Homo sapiens: one gene and its partner. The protein of the gene in region 1 purifies or fractionates together with the protein of each later gene. This does not show direct contact. Each region holds a gene or a part of one and is shown in the gene's direction. Other genes may lie near its edges. The genes, in order: DHX32 and NUDCD1.

What was found.
Region 2: the proteins of DHX32 (region 1) and NUDCD1 purify together in Homo sapiens (co-immunoprecipitation; 3 studies listed by BioGRID and IntAct, with this or other methods). This does not show direct contact.

What each region holds. Positions count from the first base shown.
Region 1 is NC_000010.11:125,870,156-125,887,231, reverse strand, and holds the start of DHX32 (putative pre-mRNA-splicing factor ATP-dependent RNA helicase DHX32), read left to right. Parts: upstream 1-5,939; 5' UTR 5,940-6,407; coding exon 6,408-6,689; intron 6,690-17,076.
Region 2 is NC_000008.11:109,314,012-109,331,087, reverse strand, and holds part of NUDCD1 (nudC domain-containing protein 1), read left to right. Parts: intron 1-1,153; exon of another isoform or gene 1,154-1,252; coding exon of another isoform or gene 1,253-1,283; intron 1,284-8,624; coding exon 8,625-8,779; intron 8,780-17,076.

The sequences.
Region 1 (17,076 bases):
AAGTATTGGTTGAACAGGTAAATGGAAAACCCAAAAATGGAGGCATTGAGGATGAGAAAACTTGAAGACACAGAAGACCTATTAGATTATGAATGATATCGATGGTAAAATACAATCAGATGTTGCCCTTAGAAGCATATGATCCCTAAAGGATAGAAAATGACTCATTCACTATTTACTCAGCCCGTAATTATTAATTAGTCACCCACTGTATTTGGATTTAGGAGTGGAAATTACCAGTGAAGAAGGTGTAGCTCCAATAACAGTGTAAGTAAAGAGACAGAAAGACATGGGGAAAAGATAATCACTAGTACAAACGGTTCAAGAGTCCCCTCATACTTGATGTTGCCTCCTCAGCATGTGCAGTTTACAAGCGGTCCCACAAAGATCAGTGATCTGCTAGAGCAAGCGTGATACATGCCATTGTCTGAATCTCAGTGCAGCTTTGTACTTTTCAACATGATAACTCTTCTGAATTGATCAAGAAGAAAGCAGCTTTAATAAATGTTGAAAGGAGTTAATTTGGGGTTTGGATGTATGATTCAAGGGACGACCAGGAGCCTCTACAAATATTCCAGTTTGTGGGTTTGTGAGTCTTAAAGAATTCTAAGAATAGCAAGAGTCTATCATATATCATAAACAGAAGGGAACAAAAAAGTCACATAAATCCAGAAACATAGTGAATTCCTGATAGAAGTGTTTAAACTCTATGCAGCAGTAGTAAACTACCTTGAACTTAGCTAAGAGTGAAATAATGAAGGACGTAACTATGCAAGATAGACTGCAGTGGAGACACTAAGCCCTGCTTCATAGAGCTCACATTCCAGTGAAGGGCACCAACAGAAAACAAAGAGGGAAAATGTATACATTATGTTAGGTGGTGGTCTTAAGGAGAAAAAATGAAGCAGTTAAAGAGGTTAGGAAGTGGTTTTTGGGAGTGTGGGAGAGCGGTAAAAGTTTAGATAGGGTGGCCAGGGAAGCATTTACTGAACTGCCATTTGGTAACGACCTTTATGCAGCAAGGAAGCTAGCCATTTGGATATCTGAGGGAGGAACATTTCAGACATACAGAAGGGTGAACACCAAGTTCCAGAGGCAGGCATCTGCCATGGTGTTTGAGGAATAGCAGGGGAGCCGTCTGGCTAGGGAAGACTGAAGTAGGAGCTGTTGCAAATGAGGGCAGAGAGGCGATGGGTCCAGATCATACAGTGATTGTTGGTCCTCTTAAGGATTTTGGTTTTTCCTCAGAGTGAGATGAGATGGGAAGTATTGGAGACTATTGAGCAGAGGAGACATGAGCTGACTTTAATAGGATGACTCTGACTGCAGGCTTGAGACCTGACTGTAAGGGGCTAAGGGTAGAGGAAGGCCGGTTAGGAGGCTATTGCAGTAATCCAGGTGAGAGGGGTAGTGGCTCAGACCAAGTGTTCACAGTAGAGGTTATGGGGCACTTGATATTTTTTGAAGACAGAACTGACATGATTGAATATATTAGTTTTCTATTGCTTCTATAAGAAATTACCATAAATTGAGTGGTAATTTATTGTCTTAACAGCTTCGTAGATCAGAAGTCGGTTGTCGGTCTCACTGGACTACAATCAAGGTGCCAGCAGGACTGTGTTCGTTTCTGGAAATTCTAGAAGATGATCTGTTTCCTTGCCTCTTCTAGCTCCTAGAGGTCACTCACATCATTCTTCGGCCGTGGCCCCTTCCTCCACCTTCAAAGCCCACAACATTGCATCTCTCCGACCTTCTTCCATAGTCATATTTTCCTCTGACTGTGGCTAGGAGGGTCCTCTGATTGTTAAGACTCATGTAATTAGATTGGGCTCACCAGGATCGTCCAGGATAATCTTCCAATCTCAAGGTTATTAATTTAATCACATCTGTAGAGTCCCTTTTGCCATGCAAAGTACATATTCATAGGTTCCAGGGATTCCTACATGCACATCTTTGGAGGCCATTCTACATACCACATCAGTCGAAGGACCAGATGTGGGATTTAAGATAGAGAAAAATCAAGGGTAACTTCAAATACTTTGATCTGAGCAATGGGAAGGAAGGAATTAACTGAAATTGGGGGGACCAGATTTGTGGCTTTGGGGTACATGTTGGGAGCTCAGTTGCAGGCGTGTAAAGTCTGAGTTTCCTATTAAATATCCAAGTGGGAGATGATGCATAGGTAGTTGAATACATGACACTGAAGTTTAGATCGATGGATCCTAAGGACAGATACACCCATACATCCAAGTATGGATGGCACTAAAGCCATGAGATGAGATGAGACCACTTAGGCCCTATTAAAGAGAGAAAGGGGAAGAGAGGTCCAGGAACTAAGCATTGGGAACTTCCAGATATCTACCAAGTGCTAAAATTATGTATTTGGGTATTTGATACATGAAAAGTAAGCAGTAATATTGGCTTGAATACAGAAAAAAAAAACACACAAAAGAGGAGCACTGAATGGTGAAACATAAGTTACTCAGGACAAATTAATGCTTTTGCTTCACTTAATGCCTTACAAACTTTGTCTTTCCATTTCTGTGAACTGTATTTCTAGAATTACTGGACCAGAGCCAAACACATAAATGACTAAGACATAGCTTCATCTTACATTGACTTCTAATTCTACCTTGTTAAGGTTGTCTGTTAATTAGATATGTATTATTTTCATGGATGCATGTTTAAGAGCTGTAATAGATTGATTTCAAATAGCTGTCCTTGACAAAGTGTGCCATCTACAATATACATGTATGATAGCTTTGAAAGAGCAAATGTCAATCTTTCAGATTTAAATTTCTTATAGTGGAATGTAGTTTATACTTACAACAGAACAGTTATGAAACTTTATTTTGAATGACATCTAACCTACCATATTATTTGTTTCTCTTTCTTTAGACTGGTACTGTTAAATTTGCCAAAGGCCAAGACATAGATCTTTGGTACATATTTAATTACCTCTAGGAAAAAACATTTACATGGCTTACACCAGTTGCAAGATGAATAAGGAGAGGTATATGAATGTTATTGGAGTCAATGGGCCCAACTCCTCTAGTTAGGTCTCAGCCACTCCACCCTCCAAATTTGGAATCCAAACCATATAGCAGCAAAAGGTCCTTCTGAGTAGTCGAAATAGATGTTCCAGAGTCTATAAATGTCATAGTTTTGCGCCTCAGACTCATTGGATTCAATGGTAGCATCCTTTGTGGACTCAAGCTTTACAAATGTGTCTGTCAAACAAGCTTGTCTGGCTTCTAATGCACCGGTTAGGAGAGCAGGTTAGAAAGGCAGAGAAGAGCCTCACAAGGTAAGAGGCCACACCACACAGTGGCATGGGTTCTGAGTCCCCAGGGAAGAGCAGGGCTCCAGGAGAGCAGTCTGGTCTTTGGCTTCTGTAGATTTCGGAGACATCTGAGGACATCATTCTGTTTTGGCAACTGATGTAATGGTGACCTTGAGTCACAATGAAAAAGTTAAATTGTGAGTATAGTTTATTTAAGAAGGCAGAAGTCTGGTTATCTGTTTCTGCAAGTCAAACCACCCTGCAACTTAGTAGCTTACAAAAACAGTGACCATTTGTTGTCTCATGATACTTTGGGTTGTATGGGCTCCTGTGGATGCTGCTTCTGCTCAGTTGGCTGGGGTTGCAGTCATCTGGAGGCTCGACTGGGCTGGGGCATCTTAGGCAGCTTGTTCACATGGTTGAAGGTTTATGCTGCTGTGGACTGGAAGTTCAGCTTTGGTCTCTTCCCGGTGGCTTGGGCGTGGGTACCTCATAGAATGACAGCTGGTTCTAAAGAGGAGTGTTTCAAGCATGGGAATATCTTGGAAGTGATTCAGTATCACTTAACTGCATTATTTTAGTCATAGTGACACTGGTCACAGGGCCAGCTCAGATTCAAGGGGAGAGGAAATAGACTCTACCTCTCCATTTGGAACAGTGGCAAATAATCTGTGGCCATCTTTAATTCCACTATAACAGAGAAGTGGTTAAGGCTAATGTGTGTGGATACATTGCACAATGTGTGATGAAGGGGCCAGGTAAGTCTCAGGTCTTTAGAAAGAAGACTATTCAGAAAACTTGATTATTTCCTCAGGGTTCAAAGTGGTCAGTGCTTTATAAGTAAGAATTTACTGTAATTATAAGATTATTACACTCTTAGGGAGTATTATAAATAAGAGAAACATTTCTTTTTGGTAAAAATAATAGCTGTTCTTTTTTTAAGGTAAAACAGTTAAGAAATACTACCTAAGGCAATCATTGGTTATAATATTTAATAGCAATTTAATTTACATGTAGGCTGAGAACCCTTGGAAGGGATTCTAATCAGAACAAAAGAAAAATAGAATATAAAATTAAATTTTAACTTCTCTGAAGAGTGGAATTTTCTGATTCTTGGATACCTTCCCAGAATTAGCTTGTGCGATGATCTCAAGCTACCATGCTTCCTGGAGCTATTCTGTGGGTCTACTCTCACCTTATAGAGGCAGTGAAGAGTTCTGAAGTGAATCCATATTACAACATTTCTATTATGCCTTTGTAATTCCATTTTAATTTTGAAACACTGGCTTTTAGATGAATTTTTAAGAACTTTACTTGGGAAGAGCTATGAAGTTCTTCTGCCTCTCTGGTTACTTACCTCTAAACTAGCTTGTTCATCTGTGAATTTTAAAACTTTCTATCCTGCTCTTGCTGCCATCTTCAAAATATCCTTTATGTGTGTATCTAGTGCCTAGTTTACTCATCTAATAAGCCCTTAGAAGACACTCAGCAAATGTTTTTTGAGTGATTGACTGTTGCCCTGGAGCCTGTCTTGACCAATAGAGAGAGAGCTTTTCTTATCACTTACTAATTAGGAACTAGCTGTTGAGCACACTGGCTCCAACCATCTAAAGCAATAATTAAGGTAAACCAGGTGATCCGAAAAGTGCAGTAACTTACAAAATATCATGAACTGTATTTTATTATTCTTTTTAACTTGAGTTTTCTTTTTCATTTTTATCTGGTTAATGTGAAAAGGAGCTTATTTCCAGCAACACTAATGGAATTTTTCTTTTTAATCACTAGTAATTGGAAGGGGAAAGACCCTTCACCTGACATGTGGGGACTGAGTTATTGGTATAAATCTTGCTCTTTCTTGGGTGATTTCTCTTCTTCATTTAAATTAAAAGTTGTCCTTAATGGCCTCTTGGAGCTGACATGTTGGGCTCAAGACCCAGGAATCTCAAGAAATATGCTAGAGATTTCTGGTTTAATTAAACAAAAGACCTTATTAATAAAAGCCAGCCAGCTGGGCATGGTGGCTCACATTTGAAATCCCAGCACTTTGGGAGGCCAAGGAGGACAGACCACTTGAGCCCAGGAGTTCGAAACTAGCCTGGGCAACAAGGCAAAACTCCGTCTCTACAAAAAAATACAGAAATTAGCTGGACATAGTGGTGTACACCTGTAGTCCCAGCTACTCAGGAGGCTGAGGCAGGGGGAAAACAGCCTGGGAGGTTGAGGCTGCAGTGAGCCATGATCACGCCACTGCATCCAGCCTGGGTGACAGAGCGAGACCCTGTCTTTTTTATATATATATAAAATAAAAGCCAACCATAACTACATATGGAAGGAAATAATAAATTCATTCCCCTCACTTGGCTTTCTAAACTGACATAAGCAAAAGGAAAATGAAAAGTTTTAAAAATGTTTTTCATTAAAGTAAAGGATTTCTTAATAATAGATTTTCCTGTAGCCTGTGTTAGAGGAACACTCACCAGGTCATCACAGTTCTTTCCTTTTATAGGGTCCAGCTCCTCTTTTGACATGGGATTAGGTGACCACGTGATTGATTAGCCTCACAATCACAATCCTGTCCCTCCTGTTGCTTTCCATTCACAGTTGATCAAGACGCAGAGCCTGAGATAGAGGTCAGGCAGAGAGCACGAGGCCCAGTGCAGAATCATTTTCTGAACCAGCCAGGAAATACCGGAACCCACCAAACTTTAAACACCAGCCTAAATTATTCCTGTTCTTTTAAGCAGGCAGCAGAAATGACAGAAACCCGTTAACAGAAAAAAAAAAAATAATGCTTTTCATTTGAACTCCTGTGCATTTTCTTTTTAACTTATATGTGTTCCTAATTTTCCTTACTCTTTTTGTTTGTTTGTTTCTTAGTGTGGTTTATTGACAATCATTTACAATGCCGAAGAGTGCTGTAGTGAGCCAGCACAGTGGGTAACACAGCAACGGAGAACAGATGCAGGTTTGAGGAATTTAACTTGCTAAAACCTTGAACTGAAGTCTTAGAGATTGGAACATACGGGTTTGTATAAATAGGCTTTTAAGCCCTGTTTGCAATGGGTTACTGATAGGAGAAACTTGCTTGTGGAATGTCAGCTGCGTGAGCTCACTGTCAGACAAGATGGAAGAAGAAGGGCTGGAGTGTCCAAACTCTTCCTCTGAAAAACGCTATTTTCCTGAATCCCTGGATTCCAGCGATGGGGATGAGGAAGAGGTTTTGGCCTGTGAGGATTTGGAACTTAACCCCTTTGATGGATTGCCATATTCATCACGTTATTATAAACTTCTGAAAGAAAGAGAAGATCTTCCTATATGGAAAGAAAAATACTCCTTTATGGAGAACCTGCTTCAAAATCAAATCGTGATTGTTTCAGGAGATGCTAAATGTGGTAAGAGCGCTCAGGTGAGTAACCACTACAAAAAATAATTTGCTGTATGTGTTGATTTTTTAATTGTTATTTAATGACATGTCACAGCCTAGTGTTCTAATAATAGTGTCTAAAACAAAAAACAAAACATTATTCAGATAAAATAATTAAATCACGTACCTAATTTTATTAATTTTACTAATACTAGCTGAAAAGTTAATAATATCTATGTAGAAATTAATTGTGTTTAGGGTACCACTGAATTGTCTATAGAGCAGTATTAAAATTACTCAAATGATCCTAGTATTAAATTTACTCAAATGATCCATTGTGTATATGATATTTTAAAAGATGTGATGCGTGTTATTTCCTCAGCATGGGTATGGGGATTAACTGCTCTGTTTCAGTGCCCAGTGGTCTGAGAATCCAGATATGTGGATGTGCTTGCTGGTGAAGCTGGCTGAGCTACTGAAATCAAAAGCACAAGGAAATTCTGATTTTCCTGACTATAAGAAATAACTGAGCAACTAAATATGATCCAGGCCTGGGGCCACACACTTTGGGGTCTAAGATGGGGGAAAGAATTAGGATCATTAAGAGATAAACCTAGGGATATTAAAATATTAAAGAGTTGGAGCAGGCACAGTGGCTCACATCTGGAATCCCAGCACTTTGGGAGACCAAGGTGGACAGATCATTTGAGCCCAGGAGTTCAAGACCAGCCTGGGCAACATGGCAAAATGCCGTCTCTACAAAGAAGTAGCCGGGCATGGTGCTGCATGCCTGTCGTCCCAGCTACTTGGGAGGCTGAGGTGAGAGAATCACCTGAACCTGGGAAGTTGAGGCTGCAGTGAGCTGTGATGATGCCCCTGCATTCCAGCCTGGGCGATGTGAGTGAGAGACCTTGTCTCAGAAAAAAAACAAAAAAAACAAGGAGTTTGTTTGAGCAAAGAATGACTCATGAATTACGCAGCACTCAGAACCATTGGAGGTTAGTGAGCCCCATTCTAGCAGCAAGGGCAGTGAGCTTTTATAGGCTGAACATGAAAGTAAGACAAAAGACATTTAAATTGGTTAGAGTGGAAAGTTCCGAGTTAGGGAATAGTTGGCAGTTTCTGATTGATAAAGTCTAGTATGGTTTTACTGTTTACATTGGACTTTAGTTTGCTTATGTGGGACCTTCTAGAGCTCTGTCATTGCCTCAGCCTAATGGCCTCTCAATTAAAGTTTGTTTGTTTGTTTAACGGGATAGTGGGCCAGGTGCAGTGGTTCACACCTATAATCCCATCACTTTGGGAGGCTGAGGCAGGAGGATTGCTTGAGTCCAGCAGTTTGAGACCAGGCTGGGCAACATGGCAAGATCCCAACTTTATAAAAAATTAAAAAATTAGCTGGGCATGGTGGTGCGTGCCTGTGGTCCCAGCTACCCAAGAGGCTGAGGCAGAAGGATCACTTGAGCCCATGAGGTCAAGGCTGCAGTGAGCCATGTTCATGCCACTGTACTTCAGCCTGGGCAACAGAGCAAGACCCCGTCTCAAAAAAAAAAAAAAAAAAAAAAAAAACAAGAAAAGGCTGGGCGCTGTGGCTCATGCCTGTAATCTCAGCACTTTGGGAGGCCGAGACGGGCAGATCATGAAGTCAGGAGTTCGAGACCAGCCTGTCCAATATGGTGAAACCCTGACTCTACTAAAAAATACAAAAATTAGCTGGGCATGGTGATGCACACCTGTAGTCCCAGCTCCTTGGGAGGCTGAGGCAGGAGAATCACTTGAACCCAGGAGGTGGAGGTTGCAGTGAGCTGAGATTGTGTCACTGCACTCCAGCCTGGGTGACAGAGTAAGACTCCATCTCAAAAAAAAAAAGAAAACAAAACAAAACAAAAAAAAACACCAAGAAAAACAAGGTAGTGTAGAGAAGGAAAAAGTAATAATTTTCTCTGTCCTTCATAACTCTTATCTGAGGCTCCCTGTAACAAAAGACAAATTAACAGAAGAAAAACAGAAGTGTATTAATATGTATGCCTCATGTATACACGGGAAAACCCCAGAGAAATGAGCAAGTCTCTAGAGTAGATCTCAAAGAAAGCATTTAAATTTTGGGCTTAAATACCATCATTCTCTGAAACAAAGTAAAAAAGGTTGTGGGGAACAACCCTGTTAAGATGAGATGGCCAGGAAAAGCACCTTAAATGAAGGTGAAGTTTGTTATGAAGATGTAAGTCGATGTCTTCTTTACTTAGTCATCTCCTCCTGTTGCAGAGAGGGAGATGCCCTTATAAGCAGAGATTTCTTGTATAGGCACAAATTTATCTTTAAAAAGGTAACTTTTCAGAGCTACTCCTATGTCTACACTTTCTCAAAATGTGCAAAGGAGGCATATTTTGGGGTCACATATTCTGGTCTCCTTCAGTCATATTCTGGGGAGGTATGTCCTGAGCCCCAACATTAGATAGTTAATAAATACTTATTATTCAGTTTGTTGTTGTATTTGGACTTCAAGTTTTTGTTCAAGTGAGATCCATATTTTACTCTTAAGTTTTAAAGCAAGCAACCAGTATTTTTATCATGAAATTCATTTCTAGATTCTCGCGATGTAAGAATTAGAATAGACCATATAGTGTGAATAATAAGAAGTCCCATTTCTCATAGAGAAGTTACGAATAGATCTAGTAGAATAGACTATGCTCTAATAGAATAGAATTAGAAACTGATGGAACCCCTTCATTTTTCAGATGAATAAACTGTGGCCCAGAAGGATTTGATAATTTGTCTATCTAATGTCAGTAGCTTTCTGAATTGGAGTTAAAAGAATATTTTCTACTATAAATTGTTGCTTTCAAGTTGTTTATTATCTCTAGAGTTTACCTATTTTATTATCACTATTATTTTTTGAGACAGAGAGGCTCGTTCTGTCACCCAGGCTGGAATGCAGTGGGGCAGTCTTGGCTTACTATGACCTCCGTCTCCCGGTTCAAGCAATTCTTGTGCCTCAGCCTCTTGAGTAGCTGGGATTACAGGCATGCACCATCATGCTTGGCTTATTTTTGTATTTTTAGTAGAGTCAGGGTTTCACAATTTTGGCCAGGCTGGTCTCGAACTCCTGGGCTCAAGCGATCCTCCCACCTTCACCTCCCAAAGTGCTGGGATTACAAACATGAGCCACTGTACCTGCCCTAAAGTTAACTTACTTTAAAGGTAATTTGAAAAGAGGAGGGCTGGACAACAGATGTTTTTTATCTGATTTACAGCTGCCAGTATCAAAGGTTTATTATGATTTGTTCTTTGTTACGCTGTTATTGTTATAACAAACGATTTCAGTTCATTACGAGAAGCTAACGATGAGAACTGACTGAGTATAATTTTCCTAGTTTCTGTGGACAAATAACATTGAAAAAATGTGTTTTTATTTTACAATAATTTCAAACTTACAAAAAGTTGCAAAAATAGTACAAAGATTTTCCATATGTTGTTCACCCAGATTCCCCAAATGTAAGATTTTACCATATAAACTTTATCTTTCCCTCCCTGCCCCCTCCATACATTCATACACATTTTTATTCTGAACCATTTAGGGGTAGGTTGAGGACATGATGCCCTTTGCCTCCAAATACTTAACAGAGTATTTATTTACTGAAAAACAGTGTGTAGCCGTAACATAATTATCAAAATCTGGAATGTAATGTTGATATCTAATTATTATCTGATTTCTAGACATTCACATTTAATCAGTTTCCCATTGATAGCCTTTATAATCACTGAAAAAAATTGTTTTTCTGGTCCAAAATCCAATCTAAAATTGCATTGTATTTTATTGTCGTTTTTTAATCTGACACAACTCCCCAGTCTCTCCCTGTCCTTTATGACTTTGACATTTTTGAAGAGCACAGGTTATATATTCTGCAGAACCTCCCTCAGTTTGAACATGTCTGATGTTTCCTTAGGGTTAGGTTCCGGCTCTGCATTTGTGGCAAGAAGATCACACAAGTGCTGTGTATCCTTCTCAGTGCCTCATATCAGGAGGCACAAGATGTCAGTTTTGCCCATGCTGGTGATGTTAATTCTGATCCCTTGGTAAGGTGGTATCTGCCTGGTTCTTTATTGAAAAGTTAACAATTTCCCTCCAATCATTTAATAGATACATATTTTGAAAGTATGTAAATGTTTCTCATTATACATTTGTAACCACCCAATGGGTTCATCTTGTTTGTTGTCAAGATAGAGCCAATTTATCAAGACAAGGGAATTGAAATAGAGAATGAATTTAATACACATAAAGCTGGCTAAACAGCAGACAGGAGTTGTACTATTACTCCAATCAGCCTCTTTGTCAATTTGGAGGCTAGAGTTTTTCAAGGATAGTTTGGTGGGCAGGGGGCTAAGGAATGGGTACTGCTGATTGGCTGAGGATGCAATCACAGAGGTGTGGAAAACAGTCCTCATGTGCTGAGTCCACTTCTGGGTAGGGACAACAGAGGAGTTACTGGTCTATCCAGTTATAGGGCCTCCAGTTGTCAGAAATACAAAAACCTGAAAAGACATCTCAGAAGGCCAATCTTAGGTTCTATAATAGTGATGTTATTTACAGGGAGGTTACAAATCTTGTGACCTCTGGAATAATGACTGGTAATCATTTAACTACACCTACATCTTGGCAGAATTCAGGCCCCTCTCATCCTCCTAACCTGGTGTCCTTTCATTAGTTTTACAAAGGCAGTTTCATTTTGCTGTCATCATTTAAACTATAAACTATCTACAAAAGTTAGCTTGGCCCACTGCAGGAATGGCTAAGGGAGTTTGGGGGTGAAAGGCAAGATGGAGTTGTCAGGTCAGATCTCCTTCACCATCATAATTTTCTCACTGTTACAATTTCTGCAAAGGCAGTTTCACATTCATCCACTAGTGTTAGCATTTTTGGTGATTCTTACCTTTGAATTATTACATTAGTAGTAACCAAAGATGATTATTCTAATTCTGACATGCCTTCTACACATTATTTAGAATCTTTCTGTAAGTCTGAGCTTTCTCTCCTTCATCATTTATTTATGTCAATGTGGACTCATAAATTCTTATTTTATTCTATGGGTTATAATGTATTACTAAGCCTACTTACTTTGTTGTTCAAATTGCCCCCAATGTGGCTTCTCTGTCCTTTTGACATTTCCCCATTATTGAGCACTTCTTTGCTTTCTGGCTCAGTAAGATGTTCCAGGTTCATCTAGTACATTCCGCATGCCGGTGTAGAAACCATTTTTTTTTTCTCCAGGAGTCCTTGTTCCGTTTAGTGGTGAACTGTGTTTTGAAACCAAGATCTGGACACTAAGTACCTATTACCATTGGTTTATCATTGCAATTTTTTTTTTGAGACAGTGTTTCATTCTGTCACCCAGGCTGGAGTGCAGTGGCATGATCACGGCTCACTGCAACCTCAACATCCTGGGCTCAAGTGATCCTCCCACCTCAGCCTTTAGAGTAGCTGGGACTACAAGTGTGTGCCACTACACTCAACTAATTTTTGTATTTTTTATAGAGACGGGGTTTTGTCATGTTGCCCAGGTTGGTCTCGGACTCCTGGGCTCAAGCAACCTACCTGCCTTGGCCTCCCAAAGTGCTGGGATTATAGGCCCACTTCACCCGGCCTATCATTGCTTTTAGGCCATCTCAGTGGACACAACAAGGAAATAAATGTATGTGAGTGCAATATACACACGTCTCATTCTATCCATCTATTTGTGGCTCTGTTTCTCTCTGTCTTTCTCTATTTTTATGTATTTCTATTTTCTTACCTCTCATATTTTTTATCTCTCTTTCTATATCTTAAAAACCATGAGTTTGTACTGATGCCTCTGATTCCAGTTTAGCACTACAGGGTTTATTCTAGCCTTCCCAGTTTTCATATCCATAACTTCTCTATGAGAAACAGGGCTTCGTGTTATTCACACTATCTTTACCTGTTCTCAGATTGAACAAGTAAAGATACTCAAAAGAACAATTCATATTGTAGTTTCAGAATTGCTAATCCACACTGCAGTTTAAAAAATTTTTTTAATCTACTTCTTGAGTTTTAGAATTTATCATCTTCAAGAGCAAGAATTGTTATATGTTATATGTTATATTAATACCTAGCAATGGTTTCTCTTGTCATTTTTAATTTCTCAATTATTTCAATGAATTAGGCTTATTTTCTGTTAATTGGGACGACATGTATCTTCAAAGTGAGAAAAATCAAAATGGTACTCAAATAAGAAAATGGATCTATCCTAAACTAATTTAGATAGTGGGAGCATTGGTTGGTTTCTTTTGGAAACAACTTGGTTTTTGTTGTTGTTGTTTTAAGAGTTTGCGAGACTGTTTTCTTGTTCTTCAGAGTTTTAAACCTTTCAAGAAAAAAGTCTTTCTTCAGAGCCAAGCTTTACAAAGGTCCTAAAGATTTCACCTGTCTTTGGTGCAGAAACAGAGGACAATTTCCCATATGTTTATAGAATCTTTTCTTATTACATTTTTTGCAGACAGGTTATGAACGATCCTAAAAGAGAGAGAAAAACATCTCTAGAAGTGTATATTTTGCTTATTTCTCCTTCTCTAGTTTTTGTCCTGAAATTTCCCATGAATGGATGGGTCAGTGAGGTGAAAAAGATATGAAAAGATATGAAAAAGAATTAACTTAGATTCTAAAAGATGTATGACTTAGAACATCTGTACTTCTATTGACTGAGTAAACTTGTTCACCATTTTCTGCTGGTAGGTTCTACCTGTATTCACTCAAAACCAAGATGTATGTGAATTGTTATCCAGGGATGTGTGATATTTGATTCAGAAGGGACCTCACTCCTCAGTAATGGATTCTGATATATTGGCTCACTTTGGGTGGGATAGCTGCCTTAGGGGCATACTCAGGCTAGGCATTTTACAGGAATGTTGTTGAAACCATTAAGACTTGCAAACTTAAAAACCATGAGCTTGTGCTGATGAATTCAACACTGAATGTGTTGAATTCACCTTTGGGTGAATTGGTGGTTCTTTAGATTCCTTTAAACTTGTAGATTCTGTTTTTCTGGTACTGAAATTAAAGGGAGTGATTGGGACCTTGGCAGTAGCTTCAGGATTGGTGGTCCTAGAGACATTAAGAGAAGAAAGCAGAAGAGGACTCAGGCCCTGATGGACGTCCTGATGATCAAAAGTGAGGGATTAGAGGCCTTTGGGACTAGTATGTGTCTAACAGAACAGTAATAGCATTGTGTCTCATGGAGGTCCTTTTTTTCTCACTTCATTTATTCTCATTTAACTATATTAAATTATAGTTAACTAACTTTATTATCCATTAGATGAGGTGAAACAATCACTGGCAGTAGATGGAAAGGACAGAAAGTTCTACACCAGTGTAGCTCATGTGGAGGTCCTCTTGCCACAGTGGCAGTGATGAGACCATACACGGATACGTGATGCCGCTGCTGCTCCCTTGATTCTGATCTGGATCTGGTTGCAGATTCTTATAGGAGATCTCCCTGCAGCCCACCCTAAAGACCCCAGGCCCCAGCTCTCCCACTACCCAGCAGCCCAACCTCTGTGTGCTGCCCGGAGTTGGGAATGGAGCATCTTTGCCTCACTGTCTGAATTTGTACAAGTTGTAGAACTGCAGTTGCTAACTTAGGTTGATAAAGCCTTGATTTAGATTAGATTTTGATTACCCGGAGGACTCCTCTTACCTACTCTCATAGCAGCAGATTGGCCAGAGTGTTGGTGATTTCCTTTCAGGTAGGCGGTAAGAGGCCAGGGATGCACATTCTCATGCCTCGATTGCTTACCTTGCATGCCCCAGAGTCAGTTCCAGCTGGGCTTTGGGACAGAGCATAGGGCAGGCCCCACTGCTCTGGCTTTATGCAAATGGCACATCAGAAGTACAGAAAACTGAATTTAGAAAATGGATTGAGAAACATGAAAAAAGTATTTGGTGAGTTCAGAATAAAGAGATGTGAAGTATTGATTTCTAGTTAGGGAGCATTTCCAGACCAAATGCGTAAATCCAAGGGTTGCACATCACCAAACTCCCAGGATAAATCACATGAAAATAGCTTTTTTTATGTGTTAGAGGAGCAATTTTCTGTTTCTTCACCATATTGTGCAACTTTTGCTAAGTACTCAGTCACAAAGTGACCCAGAATTCAATGTTTCTCTGAAAAAAGTTAAAGCCAAATGATTCATAGAAAGGTACAACTATTTAAGCTTTTCTAATTCCCATAGTGCCAACTTGGCAACTAGTCCATCCAGAATAATGTTTTTTAATACTAGGGGGGAATATCTTCCAAAGAGGAACTATGGGGTAGAAACAAAACCTCTAACAGGCTTGTAAGTCATTGGTGAGAAGACAAAGATGCAACTGGGACAATGAAAAAGTTGCTAAGTAGTACCCAGAAAAGTTAGGCCAGGTGTTGTGGCTCACACCTGTAATCCCAGCACTTTGGGAGGCCGAGGCGGGCGGATCACCTGAGGTTGGGAATTGGAGACCAGCCTGACCAGCATGGAGAAACCTCGTCTCTACTAAAAATACAAAATTAGCCAGGTGTGCTGGTGCGTGCCTGTAATCCCAGCTACTTGGGACGCTGAGGCAGGAGAATTGCTTGAACCCGGGAGGCGGAGGTTGCAGTGAGCCAAGATCCTGCCATTGCACTCCAGCCTGGGCAACAAGAGTGAGACTCCATCTCAAAAAAAAAAAAAAAAAGAAAAGAAGCAGAACTAGGGGAAGAAAGGTCAATACCAACAAGAGATACAATATTTACTATAAATGCAGAGAAGGCAAGAGTTCTTTGTAAAGCTGCAATCTCAGTATCCCTTGAAATGTGAAATACTCAAATTATCGACATTTGCCAAATGATAACATTTTTTAGCCAGTAATTCAAGTTTGCTAAGGAATCAACCCTCAGTATGTTACTTAGCTTGCCCAGAGTGATTCAGAAGGCATGTAAAACTGGAGAACTCTAACAAATAAGGCAGATGGTTTCATGTTTCCCTCTTTTCTGGCTGGAGATAACCTTTTCAGTTTGTGTTTGCATTGCTTACTGTTAACTATCTCCAAGTAGCTGTTACTGGAAGGGGAGCTGCATCCTATGTGGTCAGAGCCACAGTTGAGTACGTGCAGTATAATTTGTTGTGACTTCTGCTCAACTATTAACTTGGGCACGTAAGCAAACATTCCTACATTAAGCACGATATGGATATGTTCAGTCTTCTACTGGTTATTGTAACTGATATTTAGATGGCCTTTTCCCATTTCTGAATTAATGTCTTTGCCTCATAGGTGAAATAGTTTGCTCTAATGTAGAGGAAGGCAGAAAAGGAAAATGAAGACTGTTGGATTGGTATATTTGTTGTACTTCCAGGAATGTATAATGTTTATACTATTATCAACACACTGTAATAAACTAATCTTGCAGAATGTGTTTCATGAGCAAAGAGAAATAAATTAAATGCAGTTTTTAAAAAAGGCCCAAATCAGAAGCTTGAGAACATGGCTCATGATCATTGGAATCTTGTCGAATTTTAGAGTTCGAAAGCAGCTGTCCTGGACCTTATATGAATAACCAGGCTGAACGTGTCCAAATGTTTTAATAAAACTGGATAGTATTATTTCAGCAACGATTCTAGCTATGTAAAGCAGTGCCCACTGTCATCATAGTACTGTCCCCCTGATGTTGCCATTAGGCTAGAAAGAGTAGTTTATTTATTTATTTTTATTTTTTATTTTTTTGAGACAGAGTCTCGCTCTGTTGCCCAGGCTGGAGTGCAGTGGTGTGATCTCAGCTCACTGCAACCTGCGCCTCCCGGGTTCAAGTGATTTTCCTGCCTCAGCCTCCCGAGTAGCTGGGATTACAGGCACCCACCACCACGCCTGGCTAATTTTTGTATTTTTAATAGAGATGGGGTTTCGTCACGTTGGCCAGGTTAGCCTCAAACTCCTGACCTCTCAAATAATCCACCCGCCTTGGCCTCCCAAAGTGCTGAGATTACAGATGTGAGCCACCGCACCCAGCCTAGAAAGAGTAATTTAAAATGCTGATTGCCTGAGAATTTCATGGCTTCAGTTGCCACCTTTCTATAAAGATGCTTAGAAGCAACTGTGATGTAGTGGCAATTATACTCGCCAAGAAACTAGAAGATATGGATTGGTTCTGGTCATGCTGTTTACTGGCAGTATGACCTTGGACAAGTCACGCCTCTAAGTTTCTTTCCTCATGCATCAAATGAGGGTGTTGGCCTTCATGTCTTCCAGAGATTTCTTTCAGTACTGAAATTCTGCAACTACCATGCCTATCTCTAGCTCTGACCTCTCCCTTAGCCTCCTGCCTTGCTTTTCCGTTGATCCCAGGATGGTTATGCCTGGATGTTCTTCTGATAACATTGACCATCTTCCTGACTATCCTGAAGGTCA
Region 2 (17,076 bases), on another chromosome or scaffold:
TAACAGGCCTGAGCCACTGCTCCGACCGATTTTTTTTTTTCTTTGAAGTTCCGGGGTACATGTGCAGGATGTGCAGGTTTGGTACATAGGTAAACGTGTGCCATGGTGGTTTGCTGCACCCGTCAACCCATCACCTAGGTATTAAGCCCAGCATGCATTAGCAATTTTTCCTAATGCTCTCCCTCCCCCTACCCCATTCTCTGACAGACCACAGTGTGTGTTGTTCCCCTCCCTGTGTCCATGTGATCTCATTATTCAGCTCCCACTTACAAGTGAGAACATGTGGTGTTTTGTGTTCTGTTCCTTCGTTGGTTTGTTGAGGACAGTGGCTTCCAGCTCCTTCCATGTCCCTTTGAAGGATATGATTGTGTTCCTTTTTATGGCTGCATAGTATTCCATGGCGTATGTGTACCACATTTTAAGTACAAGGGACGTGAACAGATACGGGAGTTGAAAAGCTTACCTCAGACTCTGTGGAGGTTGAGTTTGGAAGATGAGATGACTGCACACAGCAGATAGGAGGCTTTTGCAATAGTTCACATGATGAGTTTTTCATTAGGAATTACTTGAGGATGATGAAAAAGATTATTTTGTTTAAAAACTATCATTTCTAGAGATAGTGAAGCATAATTGAGGCGCTTCTGGTAATTTGATTTCTTTTATTCTAACTGAAGGAGTTCACTTTAGTTCCACAAACCTTTGATGGGCACCTTGGCTACCTGAAACACTGCATTTAAGATGTAAAGATGATGTGGTCTCTGGTGTCAAGAACTTGATGCAATGAGGCTTATTCTCTTGTCTTAAATAATGTTATTAAGTTGTACCAAAATTTCCTTTGCTACATAAGCAGTAAATGTCACTTTGTCTTTTTCTATTCCAAAGAACGAAACAAAAAACTTATTTTTAATCAAATTGTAATTGTCTTTTGATCCGGCAATTTCCTTCCTAGGCATTTATAAATATCCTTTTCCTAGAATCTTCATTTAGTACAAGTCTTTTTATATGTTTTTATATGTTTCCCAGCTATATTTCACCTAGCTAATTCATACTTCATTCTTTCATGTTGGCTTACATGTTACTTCCTCAGGGATTCCTTTCTTGACTAGTCAGAATCTACACTATAGAATCTGTATTATGCGTTGCCATAGTAACCAGTACTTCATAGACTTTATCATACTTCGTAGCATCCAGTATGTTTTCTTTGCTAAGATTATTGATTTTGTATTGAAGGGTCCCATGTCCATCGTTTTCAATGCTTTATCTCCAGGGTTGGAGCATGCCTGGTAAGTAGGACATAAATTTGTCTCACAAATTAAACAGCTTTATGAAGACATAATTGACAATAAACTACAAATTTAAAATGTACAACTTAAGAAGTTGTGATATATGTATACACCCGTGAAATCATCACCACAATCAAGATACTAAACTTAGCTATCATTCCCAAAGTTTCCTTGTACCCTTCTGTAACCATCTCTCTGCTCCTTCTGCATTCTAGGTTGACAGTTTTTTCTTTCAATGCTTTAAAGTTATAGCCTCAGTCTTGCTTATATTGTTTCTGATGAGAAATCTCACATTATCCTATCTTTGTTGCTCTATACATAACATGCCTTTTTTCTTCTGTTTTAAGATTTTTCTCTTTTACATTGGTTTTGAGCAGTTTGATAATATTGTGGCCAGCTGTGGTTTTCTTTATGATTCTTATGTTTGGGGTTTGTTGGGCTATAAACTGCGGACATATAGTTTTTATCAAGATCAATGGCAATATTTTGGCTATTATTTCTTCCAACTTTTTCCCCTCCTTTTCTCCTTTGAAGACTCCAGTTACACATTTTTAGATCACAGAAGTTGGTCTCAGCTCATGAATGCCCGTTTCATTTTTTCTTCATACTTTTTTCTGTTTTATTGCCAATAGTTTCCATTTTCATGCCTTTAGTTCCGTTTACTTTTTTTTTTTGTAATATTAGTCTCTTGTTAATCCCATCTGGTGTATTTTTCATCTTGGACATTGTAATATTCACATCTAGAAGTTTGATTTAAATCTTTTGCATCTTTCTTGCTTCTACTTACTTATGTTGAACATACATGGAGTACATGTAGCAATAATTGTTTTTACATCTTGTTCTGTGAATTGTAGCTTCCATGTCAGTTTTATATTGGCTTCTATTGATTGGTAATTCTCTTCATTATGGATTTTGTTTTCTTTCCTCTTTGCATATGTGGTAATCTTTGATTGGATGCCAGACATTGTGAATTTTACCTTGTTAGGTGCAGGTTATTTTTGTATTTTTATAATGTTCTTGAGTTTTTTTTCCGGGATATAGTTGAGTTACTTGGAAACAGATTAATTCCATTGGTTCTTGCTTTTATGATTTGTTAGTCCGATCAGGAGCAGTGCTCAGTCTAGGGTTATTTCCCACTACCGAGGCAAGACTTTCCTGTGTACACTACCCAGTATCCCACAAATTAAGGGTTTTCTCCATTCTGCTTATTGGGAGCAGTTATGGTTCCTAGCCTTATGTGAGTGCCCAGGATTTCTCTTCAACCCTTTCAGATGGTTCTTTCTGTAGCCTGGGGTAATCTCCTCAAACACATGCCATTAGTACTCTTGAGTACTTGAGGCAGACTCTCAGATCTCTGGGCTTCTCTCTGCATCTCTCTTTTCTCTGCTACTCTGTCTAATGACAGAGTAGTAGCCTAGTTTCTTCAACTCAAGGAGGTTGAAGTCAACTCTGCATACAAGTACTCTGGCCTTTTTCTTTCTTCAGAGAAGGGGGAAGAAAAGCTGGTGAAGATTTACACTACAGTTAAAGGGAGGGAAAAGCCATGTAACCGTTGTATTTATGTAGAGTTGACTATACCTCACTTTCCCTTCTTTGTGCTGTGGTCTGGAAACTCCTCAAGGCAGTAAACTAGATTGGTGGTGGGGCTAATCTCATAAGTGTCCTTTGTTGTTTTATGTCTGATGTCTTGAAAACTGTTGTTTCATTTAACTTTCTCTGGTTTGTTTCATCTTATTGGATGTTTCTGGTGGAAAGATAAATCTGGTTCCTATTCTTCCATGTTGGCTGCAAACAAAAGTTATTCAATGTATATTTTTAAGTGAAAAAATATTTTCTGTAGAATAATAGAGCTAGAAACAATTGAAAAGGGCTAATGAGTATAGTGAGAAAATGGATGTATAAACAGCTTTTTAAAGAAGTTTGAGAAGAACAAGGTAGGGGAGAGCTCTGCTTTAGCGGCCAGGCAGAGAAAAGGAAGCCTTTTTTATTTGTTTATTTTGCGAGTGGGGAAGTTTCAGCATATGTAAGTGGAGGAGAAACACCAGTGGACAGGAGATAACTTCTGGCAGGAGAAAATTGAATCATAAACACCTGTGTGGGAATTAGCCTTGAATGGGAGAAAAGGAACAGGGAAATCAATGCTTAATCTTATGTGCCATGCATTGATAGTAAATACATTGCATATTTCGACTGAAGCTTGTCAATGTTTTGGTACAATTAGTATTACTAACCTTTATTATAGATGAGGAAATGGGCAATAAGATGAGCTAACTTAACCAAGTTATTCATCAGTGGCAAAGCTGACCCTAAAGCTCATGCTTTTCCTAATGATCTTTGTGGTCACTCTGGCCTTTTTCTTTCTTCAGAGCAGAGGGAAGAAAAGCTGGTGAAGATTTACACTACAGTTAGAGTAAAGGGAGGGAAAAGCCACGTAACCATTGTATTTATGTAGAGTTGACTATAAAACTCATCTCTACCCTTATGGAGGAAAAGATGGGGAAAATACCCACATGAATGTGTTGAGGTCAGAGAAGTATTGCATAAAATAATTTTATGGGAGCAGTGCTCTTAACTCTGGTCCTCCCGTGTTCTTTAAGTCTCGCTTTAGAATTTGTGGACTTGTACTTTTACTTTTTTACACCTTCATAGATAAATAGCAAGCTCAGTAACTAGGTGAAAAGAAGGCTTATTGGGTTGATTCTAGAAGCTAAGTGGTCCATGAAGTGACCTTTGTAAGTTAACGTTCTTGGCCTCTCTCTTCCCCCTCTTTAAAGATTATTATACTTTGCTTATGTAAATATTAGACTGCATCATATTTAATTGGTGTCAAAGAGTTAAATATTGGCAATATCATGTGGTTCAAGTAATAGTGTATTTTGAGAAGCCAAGAAACAGTAATGAATATCATCGTTAGCACTATTAGTGCAGGAGACAGGTCTGTTTTATTCACTGTTTGTGCCCAATGCCAACCACAATGTCTGGTACATATAGTAGATATTCAATAAATAATTTATGAATGAAAAACTATAGCCCTTTGAGGTCCCATGAGGCTTTTGTGGTTTTCATGTGTGAAAAACTAGGTTTTGAGGTTCGGTAAGTATTTGGGCAAATGTTAAGGGAGACTCTTCTTTTGAGGCCCTAAGTTCTTTTTAGAAGACTAATCCTTATCAGATTTTTCAGCAAAGCTCTTTTATTTTCAATGCAAGGTATCATTAAATAATAAAATATTTACTACACTGGCTTCTCTGTAAAAAGTTCTTCTTCTTCAACCCTTACAAAGATCTATGCAGAGATTGAAGCCTCGCTGCCCCCTACTTCTTTTTTTGGGAGAACTCTGCAAAAGAGCTCTGCCAGTAGCTAAGAACTGTCACATTCTGGACACTGCTTTTCTACTTTCAGTTGCTCTGCCTCCCACTTTTATAATCAAGATAATTGACATGGTCATCATCATGTGATAACTTTTCCTTTCTCATTTGAGGCCAGAGAGGTGTCCTTTTTCTATGCGTTAATAGAGATTTTACAAAATAGCATGTAATATGGCCTAGACTCACATCTGTGTCTTAATAACTTATATAAATTATTTTGTTGGAATGAAACAATCATGAAGTGTTGTAATAAGACTGATGTCTAAGAAGCCTCCAGTTTGTTCAGGATTGCCCAGAGGTCTTTGCACAGATATGAAGAAAATGTATTTGTTATATCGTTGTCTAATATTACTGCTTCAGGCCCTTATGTTACCATGCAGTTTTCCTGCAGTATCGAGTTTCATCCACACAGTGGTGCTAGAAAACCAAGAATACATATTTCTAACTGTTGCTTATAAAATAAGTGGTGTTATATGTTTCCTCAACCTCTATCAAATCTATCATAATTGGATTTTTACCTGTGAGATGTTTCCATTATCTCTCAACCAGATGATTGCAATAGCTTTCTAATGGATCTTCCTGGATTTACCCTGCTTTATTCCAATTTGTTTTCCATATTGTAGTTATAAGTACTCTTTTATAAACTCAAATCTGAACTTTACTCTCCTGCTTAAAAACTGTTAATGAATTCTTTTAAATTGAATTTGTCAACAAAAATAAATACAGTCCATTCATAATCCAGTTCTTGCTGAGTTTTCATTTATTGCAACCTTTCCTGTACAAGTCCCCTTGTTGCTCTGCATTTCGGCCAGTGTGGCCTTCTTTGAACAGTGTGGCCTTCTTTGTGTTCTTTGAACACAAGTTTTTCTTCCTACTTTTTACAGATTTTCCTTCTGTCTGGAAAAGTAGAGGAGTGGGTATGCATGTATATAGGTGTATTTTTTATTTTAAAAATATGTTAAATTGATAAACTGGGATTTTATGTTATATTTTGATGCATGCATACGGTGTGTAATGATCAAATCAGTATTTAGGGTGTTCATCAACTTCAGTATTTACCATTTCTTTGTGTTGGGAACATTTGAAATCTTCTAGCTATTTTGGTACTCGCTGTTTTGAAATACACAATATATTGTTGTTAACTGTAGTCACCCAACTGTGCTATCAAACATGAGAACTTAATCCTTTTAATTGTATGTTTGTACCCATTAAGCAACCTCCCTTCATCCCCCACCCCCATCTTTCCCAGCCTCTGATAACTATCTTTCTACTCTCTCCCTCCATGAAATCCACTTTTTTAGCTGCGTGTATGATGTCTTTCTGTACCTGGTTTATTTTATTTATTTATTTTTGAGATGAAGTCTCACTCTGTCCCAGGCTGGAGTGCAGTGGAGCGATCTCGGCTCACTGCAACCTCTGCCTCCTGGGTTCAAGCGATTCTCGTGCCTCAGCCTCCCCAGTAGTTGGAATTACAGGCACGCACTGTCACACCCAGCTAATTTGTTTTTTGAATTTTTAGTAGAGACGGGGTTTCATCATGTTGGCCAGGATGGTCTCAATCTCCTGACCTCGTGATCCGCCCGCCTTGGCCTCCCAAAGTGCTGGGATTACAGGCCTGAGCCTCGGCGCCCGGCCTTGTGCCTGGTTTATTTCACTTAATGACCTCCAGTTCCATCTATGTTGCTGCAAATGATAGAATTTCGTTCTTTTTTATGGCTGAATAGTATTTCAGTGTGTGTATATACTACATTTTCTTTATCTGTTCATCCTTTGGCCACTTAGGTTTCCCCCATGTCTTGGCTTTTGTAAATAGTGCTGAAATAATCATGGAAGTGACGGTATTCCTTTTGATATACTGACTTTCTTTTGTTTTGATAAATATTCATTTGTGGGAGTGCCTATTGTGGTATAGTAGTTATAGTTTTAGTTTTTTGAGAAACCTCTTTACTATTTTCCATAATGGCTATACTAATTTACATTCCCACTGACAGATTATATGTTCCCTTTTCTCCACATCCTTGCCAGCATTTGTTATTTTTTTTTTTTGTATTTTTTTGAAAATAGCCATTCTAACTACAGGAAGATGATATCTCATTGTGATTTCAATTTGCATTTCCTCAATAATTAGTGATGTTGAGCATTTTTTCATGTAACTGTTGGCTATTTATTTATATATTCTTTTGAGAAATGTCTATTAAGATCTTTGCCCTCTTTATAATGGGACTTTTTTTTTTTTGCTTCAACAGCAAAAAAAATTTTCATTCCTTACGATTGAATAGTTTGCAAATATTTTCTCCCATTCTATAGGTTGTCTCTTCACTAGGTTGTTTGTTTCTTTTGCTCTGCAGAAGGTATTTTTGTTGTTGTTGTTGTTTAGTTAAATATAATCCCATTTGTCTTTTTGTTTTTCTTGCCTATGCTTTTGAGGTCTTAACCATAAAATCTTTGCATAGACCTATATCCTGAAGCATTTCTTCTCTGTTTCCTTTTTGGTATTTTTATAGTTTTTGAGTTGATTTTTGCATATGATGAGAGATAGGAGTCTAATTTTATTTTTCTGCTATGGATATCCAATTTTCACACCATTTATTGAGGAAGGTATCCTTTTCCCAGTGTATGTTCTTTGCACCTTTGTCAAAAATCAGTTGGCTACATGTACATGGATTTATTTCTGATCCATGAGCATGAGATGTCTATTTGTGTCCTCTTCAATTTCTTTCATTAATGTTTTGTAGTTTTCTTGTAGAAGTCTTTCACCTTCTTGTTAAAATACTTTTTCTTAAGTTAATTCTTTCTTATCTTTTATGTCGTGGCTCAAACCTTGGAAAGCTTTTGTTAATCTCCCCAAATAGAACTCTTACATTATGTGTTCTCATGGTACCCAGTGATTATTCTTTATCACAATTTAATTATATAAAATTTATTTCATAAAAATTATTTAAGATTTATATGATTATTTGACTAATGCCCATTTCCTCACTGTATCATAAGTGCTAATTGGCAAGATTCCATTCTTGGCTCATCACTGTGTCATCGATGCCTATTGAAATTTTATTTATTTATTTTTAAATTTATATTAGTTTCTGTATAAATGAATATAAGTCAGACAGGACTCAAAGCAGGTATTGGAAGTGGGAACAGGTGAGCATTTGGGGGAGGAAGAAAACAGTTGCCATCAGAATACAGTAAAGTGAGTTTTATATTAGGGTAGGATATTGGCCCAGCATAATCCATTTATATGTTTCCTGCTGGGGCAGAAATTAATTCCAGATCATGAGCAGTTCTGAGCCATGAAAGTTTCCATCTTCATGAAAGGGCAGGAGGAGTGGGAGGAAGAGATCACATTTGCTAGATTTAAACCTAGGGAAGCAGCTAATGCTTAAGTGAAGAAATCTCTGTTCTGTAAGTAGGAGATCTTGTTTCTAGTCCAGCTGTGATACTGTTTTGCTCTGTACCCTTGGAAAAGATGTAGTATAACATTGGAGAAGTCATTATTTGTGTATACATTTATTTATATAACTGTATAATGAGATTTTAAAAGTTAATTTCTTAATGTGTATTAAAATGAATGAGATAATAGTATATTAAAACATTTTTAAAGTATATAAACACTTCATAAATTGGGCTTAACATTTTCCTGGAAATGGTAGATTCTTCAATTTTAGAATTTCTGTTATTTTTATTCATAATTATTAGAGGTGCCTAAAAGAGGGTCATGACATAAAAAGCCCTATCTCCTGTGGCCGCTGTATTCTAAGTCTTGTAAGGACGTGGGACCATATCAGTTTTACTTACTGTTTATCCTCTGTACACAGTACCCAGAAATTATCTTTGAAAGAATGATATACTGAATTGTCCTGAAGGCCTTTGTGATTGGCATTCTGTGATTTTTTTTTTTGCCTTGTAGGCATTCTACAGATAGAAACTATCTGAGGCAAAACTCTTGATGTTTATGTTTGCTTTTCTTGTATTTCAGCTGTGGCAGAGGTAAAACTTCGAGATGATCAATATACACTGGAACACATGCATGCTTTTGGAATGTATAATTACCTGCACTGTGATTCATGGTATCAAGACAGTGTCTACTATATTGATACCCTTGGAAGAATTATGAATTTAACAGTAATGCTGGTAAGAGAAACATGTATGTAATAATTAATATATGTATGTAATATCAAGCAAATTTGATAATTAAGTTTCCCTTTTGAATCTAATATCCAGAGAAGTGAGGTGCACATACCTGTAGTATATGGAATCCTATCTACGTAATACTCCATTTCTTATTTCAATTTTAATTTTTCTCTTTGATCCTGTTATTTACACTTACTCACCTCCACTCTCACCATTGGGCAGCAACTCTCATGGATTTTATATATTATTAATACTGATGTAACTGTTCATGTCTGCTTTTCCTATGTGAGGTGTTGTCCCCAACTATAATGATGAATTTGCTTTTGTTTTAGTTTTTACTTTATGTATTTTTAACTATGTTAATTGGTACAAACATTTAGGATTGTTTTATTTATACTGAATTGATTCTTTTAGCATTTTAAAATGTCTCTTTATCTCTAGGTTCTGTGAATATTTTTTGTCTTGAAATCTTCTTTGGTATTAATACAGTTATTTCTGGATTTTTGTAAATTAGTATTTTTCTTCTTATATGCTTTTTCTATTTATCAGTGTTCTTGTTTTTAAAGTATGTGTCATAAAGAGCATATAGTTGGCTCTTGTTTTTTCCATATGACAGTCTTTCTCTTAATTGGAGGGCTTACATTTATACTTAATTTAATCTAGTTCCCAATATTCTTGGGCTAATATTACCATCTTGCTCTTCTCATTATGCCCTGTTTGTTCTTTGTTCCTTGGTGTCTTTGTTCCTACTTTTTTGCAGGAGGAATTAATCACAGTTTTTCTTTTTAAAAAAAATGTCCTTAGAACTCGATTTAATTTCCTCTTTTGGCTTTTTATTTAAACCTGTTTGTATTATTATTTTTTAAATGGTTGATACAGAGGTTATAGTGTTTTCCTTGACTTACCACAGTCTGCCTCTAATTAATATTATTTTACTTTAAAAACAATGTGAAAACTTTACAACAATATAATTCCTTTCACTTACCCTCTCATTGTTTGAGCTAATTTTATCATATGTTTTTCACCTTCATATGCTGGAAACTCCACAATACATTGTTAATATATTTGCTTCAAACAGCCAATAATCTGTTAATAGCTTCCTAAGTACTCTATTCCTTCTAGCCCTCCTGCGCATTGCATCTACAGAGTAGTCTGTCTGATTTGCGTGTTTAATATTATCACTTGCTAAAATTCTTTTAATATTTCCTTCATGGCAAAATCCATGTTTTTAATATGTAATTTAAAAATAGGCAATGTGTTCATGTAATTTAAAAACCAAAAAAGTTATAAAAGGTATTTAGTGAAGCCTCCTTGATCCCATCTTTTATCTATCCTATCTCCAGTATCCATTATTTCCCCTGCAATGTCTTTATTGGTTTTGTGTGTCTTTCCAGATGTGGTAGGTTATTTGTTGTTGTTTTTTGCAAGTATAAACACAAAATGATGTTGCGGGAAGTCAGGGACCCCAAATGGAGGGACCAGCTGAAGCCATGGCAGAAGAACGTAGATTGTGAAGATTTCATGGACATATATTAGCTCCCCAAATTAATACTTTTGTAATTTCTTATGCCTGTCTTTACTGCAATCTCTTAAACATAAATTGTAAAGATTTCATGGACACTTATCACTTCCCCAATCAGTACCCTTGTGATTTCCTATGCTTGTCTTTTCTTTAATCTCTTAATCCTGTCAGCTGAGGAGGATGTCTATCGCCTCAGGACCCTGTAATAATTGCATTAACTGCACAAATTGTACAGCATGTGTGTTTGAGCAATATGAAATGTGGGCACCTTGAAAAAAGAACAGGATAACAGCAATTGTTCAGGGAGTAAGAGAGATAACCTTAAACTCTGACCGCAGGTGAGCTGGGCGGAACAGAGCCATATTTCTCTTCTTTCAAAAGCAAATGGGAGAAATATCGCTGAATTCTTTTTCTCAGCATGGAACATCCCTGAGAAAGAGAATGTGCACCTGGGGGTGGGTCTCTGAACTGGCCCCCCTGGGCATGGTCGTCTCTTATGGTCGAGACTGCAGAGGTGAAATAGATTCCAGTCTCCCATAGTGCTCCCAGGCTTATTAGGAAGAGGAAATTCCTGCCTAATAAATTTTGGTCAGACCGGTTGATCTCAAAACCCTGTCTCCTGATAAGATGTTATCAATGACAATGGTGCCTGAAACTTCATTAGCAATTTTAATTTCGCCCCAGTCCTGTGGTTTTGTGATCTCGCCCTGCCTCTACTTGCCTTGTGATATTCTATTACCTTGTAAACTACTTGATGTCTGTGACCCACACCTATTCGCACACTCCCTCCCCTTTTGAAAATCCCTAATAAAAACTTGCTGGTTTTTGCGGCTAGTGGGGCATCATGGAACCTACTGACATGTGATGTCTCCCCCGGATGCCCGGCTTTAAAATTTCTCTCTTTTGTACTCTGTCCCTTAATTTCTCAAGCTGGCCGATGCTTAGGGAAAATAGAAAAGAACCTAGGTGAATATTGGGGCAGGCTCCCTGATGAAATGATATATATTCTTAAAATAAACTTTTCATCTTTGCATATACGTTTATATGCCGAGTTTTCTCCAACCTTGTCTTACAGCACTTTGTATACTACATTCTAGCCATACTAAACTCTTGCAGTTCCTGAGACATGTGCTGTATCCTATTTCTTCTGGTCCTTTTCTCATTGATTAACTACCTGGAGCATACTTTTAATTCAGTGTCAGTCTGCTTTGCAATCTTTACTTAAGTCCTAGGTAACCATTTTGTCATCTAGCAAGCTTGCCTTGACATCTTACCTCTGTTCCCCTAGGAATATTCACACCATTGGCTCTCAAATCTACATGTGCTGTGAATTTCTTCTATTCTAGAGGTTGATACGCTTTTCTGCACAAGGCCAGCTAATTTAGGCTTTGTGGGCCAGATAGTCTCTTGTTGCTCGCTTTTGCTGTTGTAGTGTGAAATCAGCCATAGACAGTTTATAAGCAAGTGAGTGTGGCCGTGTTCCAATTAACCTTTATTTACAAAAACATAAAATGGGCCGAGCGCGGTGGCTCACGCCTGTAATCCCAGCACTTTGGGAGGCAGAGGCGGGCGGATCATGAGGTTAGGAGATCGAGACCATCCTGGCTGACACGATGAAACCCTGTCTCTACTAAAAATACAAAAAATTAGCCAGGCGTGGTGGCAGGTCCCTGTAGTCCCAGCTACTCAGGAGGCTGAGGCAGGAGAATGGCGTGAACCTGGGAGGCAGAGCTTGCAGTGAGCAGAGCTTGCAGTGAGCCAAGATCGCACCACTGCACTCCAGCCTGGGCCACAGAGCAAGAGTCCGTCTCAAAAAAAAAAAAAAAAACATAAAATGGGCAGGAATTGGCCTGTGGACTATAGTTTGCCACCCACTGGACGAGGCCATGGGTTCTAGCACCCAGCAGAAGGCTTGATCAGTATATTTGTTGAATGGATAATAGCTGTGTAAAGTTCATTATTACTGTTGGGAGTTGGCTTTGGAATAGGGTCTTCCTCCTGTTATTTCTAATCCAAGTGTAGGTATGAGTTCTGTATTGGCAATGCAGTGTTTATCTCAAAATGTTCAGAAAGGAGTTAGACATTTCCTGGTAATAAATATTTTCCTTCAGGTGACTCCTAAAACAGATAGTGTAAAATTCTGATTGTTTCTTGTTGGATCAGAGGAATGCAATCTGGCCTCTTACTCTTAGATATTAGTTGCTTTTTCTTGCTAGCCCCATGTTCTACTAAGGATTACTATCTAGGCCCAATGTGTATAAGCCAACTAAAGTGATAGGACATGCATTTTTATGAGTGGCTATGCTCTGATCTCTCTGATCAAATAAATTTTAATGATCAAATAGATTTTGATGTAGAGTTCTGTGTGTATGTGCATGAAAGTTTTTCCTTAATCCTTTTTGTGTTAACAAATAGGGCATTTGTTGATAGCATTTGCTGTACCATAAAGTTTGCCAATAACATTTATTCTACCAATTTTCTGACTCGAAGTCAGATGACATTATGGTAGATCTGAAAGTGTTAATTTTTGTAGTACCATCCATATTCATAATCTATTTTACTTTTCCATAGATATCTTGTGGCACATGTAATGTAGCTCTAATACGTGTTGTTAGGGAGGTAGGGTAGTTGGTCAAAAGGAAACTAGACATTTAAGACAGACTTACCAAATGAGTTCATTTTAACGTGTTTATTGAAAACCTGCTCTGTGTAGGACACTAATGTATAGGTTGGTGCAAAAATAAAAACTGTTTTACCATTATTTTTAACATGTTCAAGTACTTATACTTCTACATATAAGTTCAGGTAACTTATATGTTATACTTTTTAGGTGCTAATATGAGTGTACAGGTAACTATTACATGGTAATATGTAGCTGACAAAAAGGGTACAGCAGTCTCCATATATCCTTGGCTTCAGTTTCATAGAAAATAAGAATAATGATAAGGTTTTTTAGACGTTAAAGCAAGGTGTGTGAAAATGCTTTGAAAAGTGGAAGGCATTATGCAAATATAAAGAGATATTACTGGCATATGCCTTGGGGTATCACTTTATGGGAGACAAACACTGGCTAGTTTTTTTTGCACATATTCCTTCTTTGAGAGCAGTAGAACTGTATGATAAGAATAAATCATAATGTCAGGTAACTTTTATTGCATAGAGATTATTACATATCAGGAACAATTCTAAACACTTTACACGTACTAACTGTTTAATCCACAGAACAATGGATCCTGTGGATCCTTTCTCATAGGATAATATCCTGATATTATCCTGATATACCAGATACTATTATTATCCACATCTTACAGTTGAGGAAACTGAGGCATAGGATGTTTGTAAGAGTCTGGATTTAAACTCATTTATTCCAGAATGCCACAGTGCTCTACCAGTTCTCCTTATTTCTTGTTAATAGAGACGGATATTATGTGTTAATAGAGACAGAGTTTCACCATGTTGCCCAGGCTGGTTTTGAACCCCTAGGCTCCAGAGATCCGCCTGCCTCAGTCTCCCAAAGTGCTGGAGGATTACAGGCATGAGCAACTGCTCCTGGTCTCTATTATCATTTTCAGTGCCAGTTCTCTAATCACCTGTTCAGTTTTTTGTGCAGTAATGGGTTTATTCAAAGTGTGTTTCTAGGGTAATTTTGTAATATGTATTTTTATTAGAGGAAACCATCAGTTTCCTCTTAGGTTTCCAAATATGCTGCTATAAAGTTGCATGCGTTATGCTCTTAAGATTATTGTTGTCTTTTCTCTTTCCTTTCTATATTTTTCCTCTTTTTACCTAATCAAGCTTTAGGAAAGGTATTAGTTTATTTTTAAAGAACCATGTTTTAGGTTCTTAAAGCTTGTTTTCTGCTTAATTTTCTTTGGTTCTCAGACCATATTGTACCTTGGAATAATTGTGGAGTAATTGATCAAAACAAAAACTAATTTCAAGGTACCATTTCCCAAAATTCTGATTCATTATTGTCAGGGTTGGTCATGGACTGGGAACCTGCATTTTATCAAGCACCTCAGGTGGTTTTGCTTGTGGTCCAGGGATGACCAGGTATTAAGAAATTTTGTACCTGGGATACAGAAGAATACTACACTTATTTTTTATTATTTTTCTCATCAGCAACAAATGAAATCAACCTACTCTGAGTTTCTGTCAGGTGCAGGCAGGTAGAGAATGTTGACCACTAACTAGACTATTGGCTTATAGCAGAAAACAGCTCTTCCAATATCCATTTTATTGTTTAATAATTTTTTTTGTTTTCTTTTGTTTTCATCAAAGGCACACGTGCACAAATCCTAGACAGGCTCCTTTTCTGTGACTGATGTACAAATGACCACCTTTGTTAAACCTGAACTGTTGTAGTAAAAGTGAATGCTATGGGACCCAACACTTGAAAGCCATAGGTTGCTAGGTCTTCAGACTGTCTGGAGCCAACAGGTGGCAGCAGGTCTACATACTGGTTTATAAAGACAGAATACTCTCCTTACAAAAAAGTTTAACTTGTAGGTTTACAGTCCTTAATTTTAGGGAAATGTCCCTCGGAAAGAAGTGTGCTAAGGAAGTAGAAAATGCCTTGGGAAAGCAAAAATGTGTTTAAACTTTGGTTTTTTAATACATCCTTATTTTATATATTATGGCTTATTTTAAAGTAATGTGTTCCGTTTCTTAATATTTAGGAAATTATTTCTGTAATAATTTGTTTTGTATTTACCTGAAAAGCTAATTTGTTTCTGTTACTAAAAGAGTGTCATCTTATAGTGCCTCTTTAATTTGTACTTAAAGGTCTAAGGGGCAGTTACTGGATTTCATTTGTAAGAATATATGTGTGAGGTTGCATCTTGGAGTGACATGTTACAACTATTTGTTAGAGGAGCTCAGTTTTATGTCAGTATGTTCATCTCTAGGCCTGAATGTCAGCTTGTTTTCACAGTTGAGTTAATTATTAGGGGACCACTTACTTACCTGTGTAGAGACGAAGGCAAAGTGTCCCCTTTATTCTTAGAAGGTTTGCTGAAAATCTGTTGACAAACGGCAGATTAACATGAGAAAAAGGCATATAAATATATTTTAACATGTGTACATGGCAGAATCCAGGAAAATGACTACCCAGTAACCCAGTGGGGTACAGATGCTTATATACCCTTATTCATACCCTTCTTATGCTTGATCAGTAGGGGACATGGGGGACATGCGGGATAGCAAATGATCTTTAGGGGGAAATGAATGAATGGGCCTGATGCTCAGACAATGATTAGTTAATACTTTTCTTTGGAAATTGAATGGGATGGAGAGCAGACAATGGTTTGTGACTAAGTTCATCTGGGCTGTAGGTGGGGTGTTTAATTTTCAGCCTCTTCCTCTGTGATAGAAGTTTTAATCTTCTCTGGTTAATGAAATTTCAGGGAAAGCAATTGTGTTTCTCTTTGGCAGGTCCAGTTTATAGGTAGATGAAGGAACTTCAGAGAATAGCTTCATCCTGTGCTTGGGAGAAACAGGAAGGGAGGGGAGGCCAGAAAGACCTTGAGGCTGCTTCATGTTGAAGTGGCATTATTTCGGAGTAACATTTTTTGAGCTGCAATGCCTGATGAAAGAAAAAAATAAAGAGTGGGGTAAATACGTAGAACTGTGCGTTTAATACAAAAAAAAGGGAAAAGGAAAAAGGAACTTTTTATGTTCTTTCTTCCAAATAAAGTTAATGGTTATTAATGATGAAAATACTTTGTCCAGAAAAAGATCACTGCCTTTTAAAACGGCAAAGTTTTAAATATCATTGTCTCATAATACTAGTAAATAGTATCTAATAATACTAGTAAATGGTATCCCCACTTGCTTATTTTTTTAAACTTGAGTAGCCCTTTCTATAAATCTATATTTATTAGAAAACTACTTCGTTAGTTCAAAGATTCTCTACTTATAGCTGCAACTAAGAGGGTCCCAAAATGTGTTTAAAGATGTTTTTTATAAATATATATAGTTTATGTATTACTTGTTTACTGTTTATTTACAGTGTCATTTATATATAATATATGGGCATTATAATTTTTATATTACATCTATATTGACCCAGGCATCTGCATTAAAAATACTGTGTAGAGGCCTGAAGAAAAACTGAATATAGTAGTTACATTCAAGGTTGATTTGGGGGGTTGGGGATGGGTATACTAGAAATTGTATTGAGATCTGAAGTATTAATTTATTTAGAAAATCTTCAGAAGTGGTTTCTTCTCAAGCAAATGTGGAGTAGGGGAAAGAAAACCAACTTTTGGAGTAGGGTTTTATCAGGATTTGAGTCTTGGCCCTGTCATTTTCTAGCAGTGGAGCTCCAGGCAAATTATTTAATCTTTTTGAACCTCTCTTCTAAGTGTAGTTAATAATTTTAACTTCATAGAGTTTGGTGATAAATACATGACATGGCAAAAAGTCAAAGCACTTATTTAATAAAATTCTTATACATTATACTGATTCAGTAAGTATTCCGTTCATCAATGAAATTTTAATCCTTCTGCAGTCAGCTGTGTAATGTTGCCTTAGAATGATTTTCAGTGTTAGCCCTTGAACGTAGTTACATTAACTCTTTTTGTGAGGAAAAAGAAAATGATTATGTGAGAGCTGGACATTATAGATGTCAGTTAGCATATAAAGTGTTGTTATGAGGGCATGTAGTGAAATTGTCAATAGAGGTTATTCAGATATAAGTAAATGCTATATTTTGGGATTTAGAGAAAAAGATATTTTATTGCTTATAGTCCATTTAAAATTAAACTGTACTTTG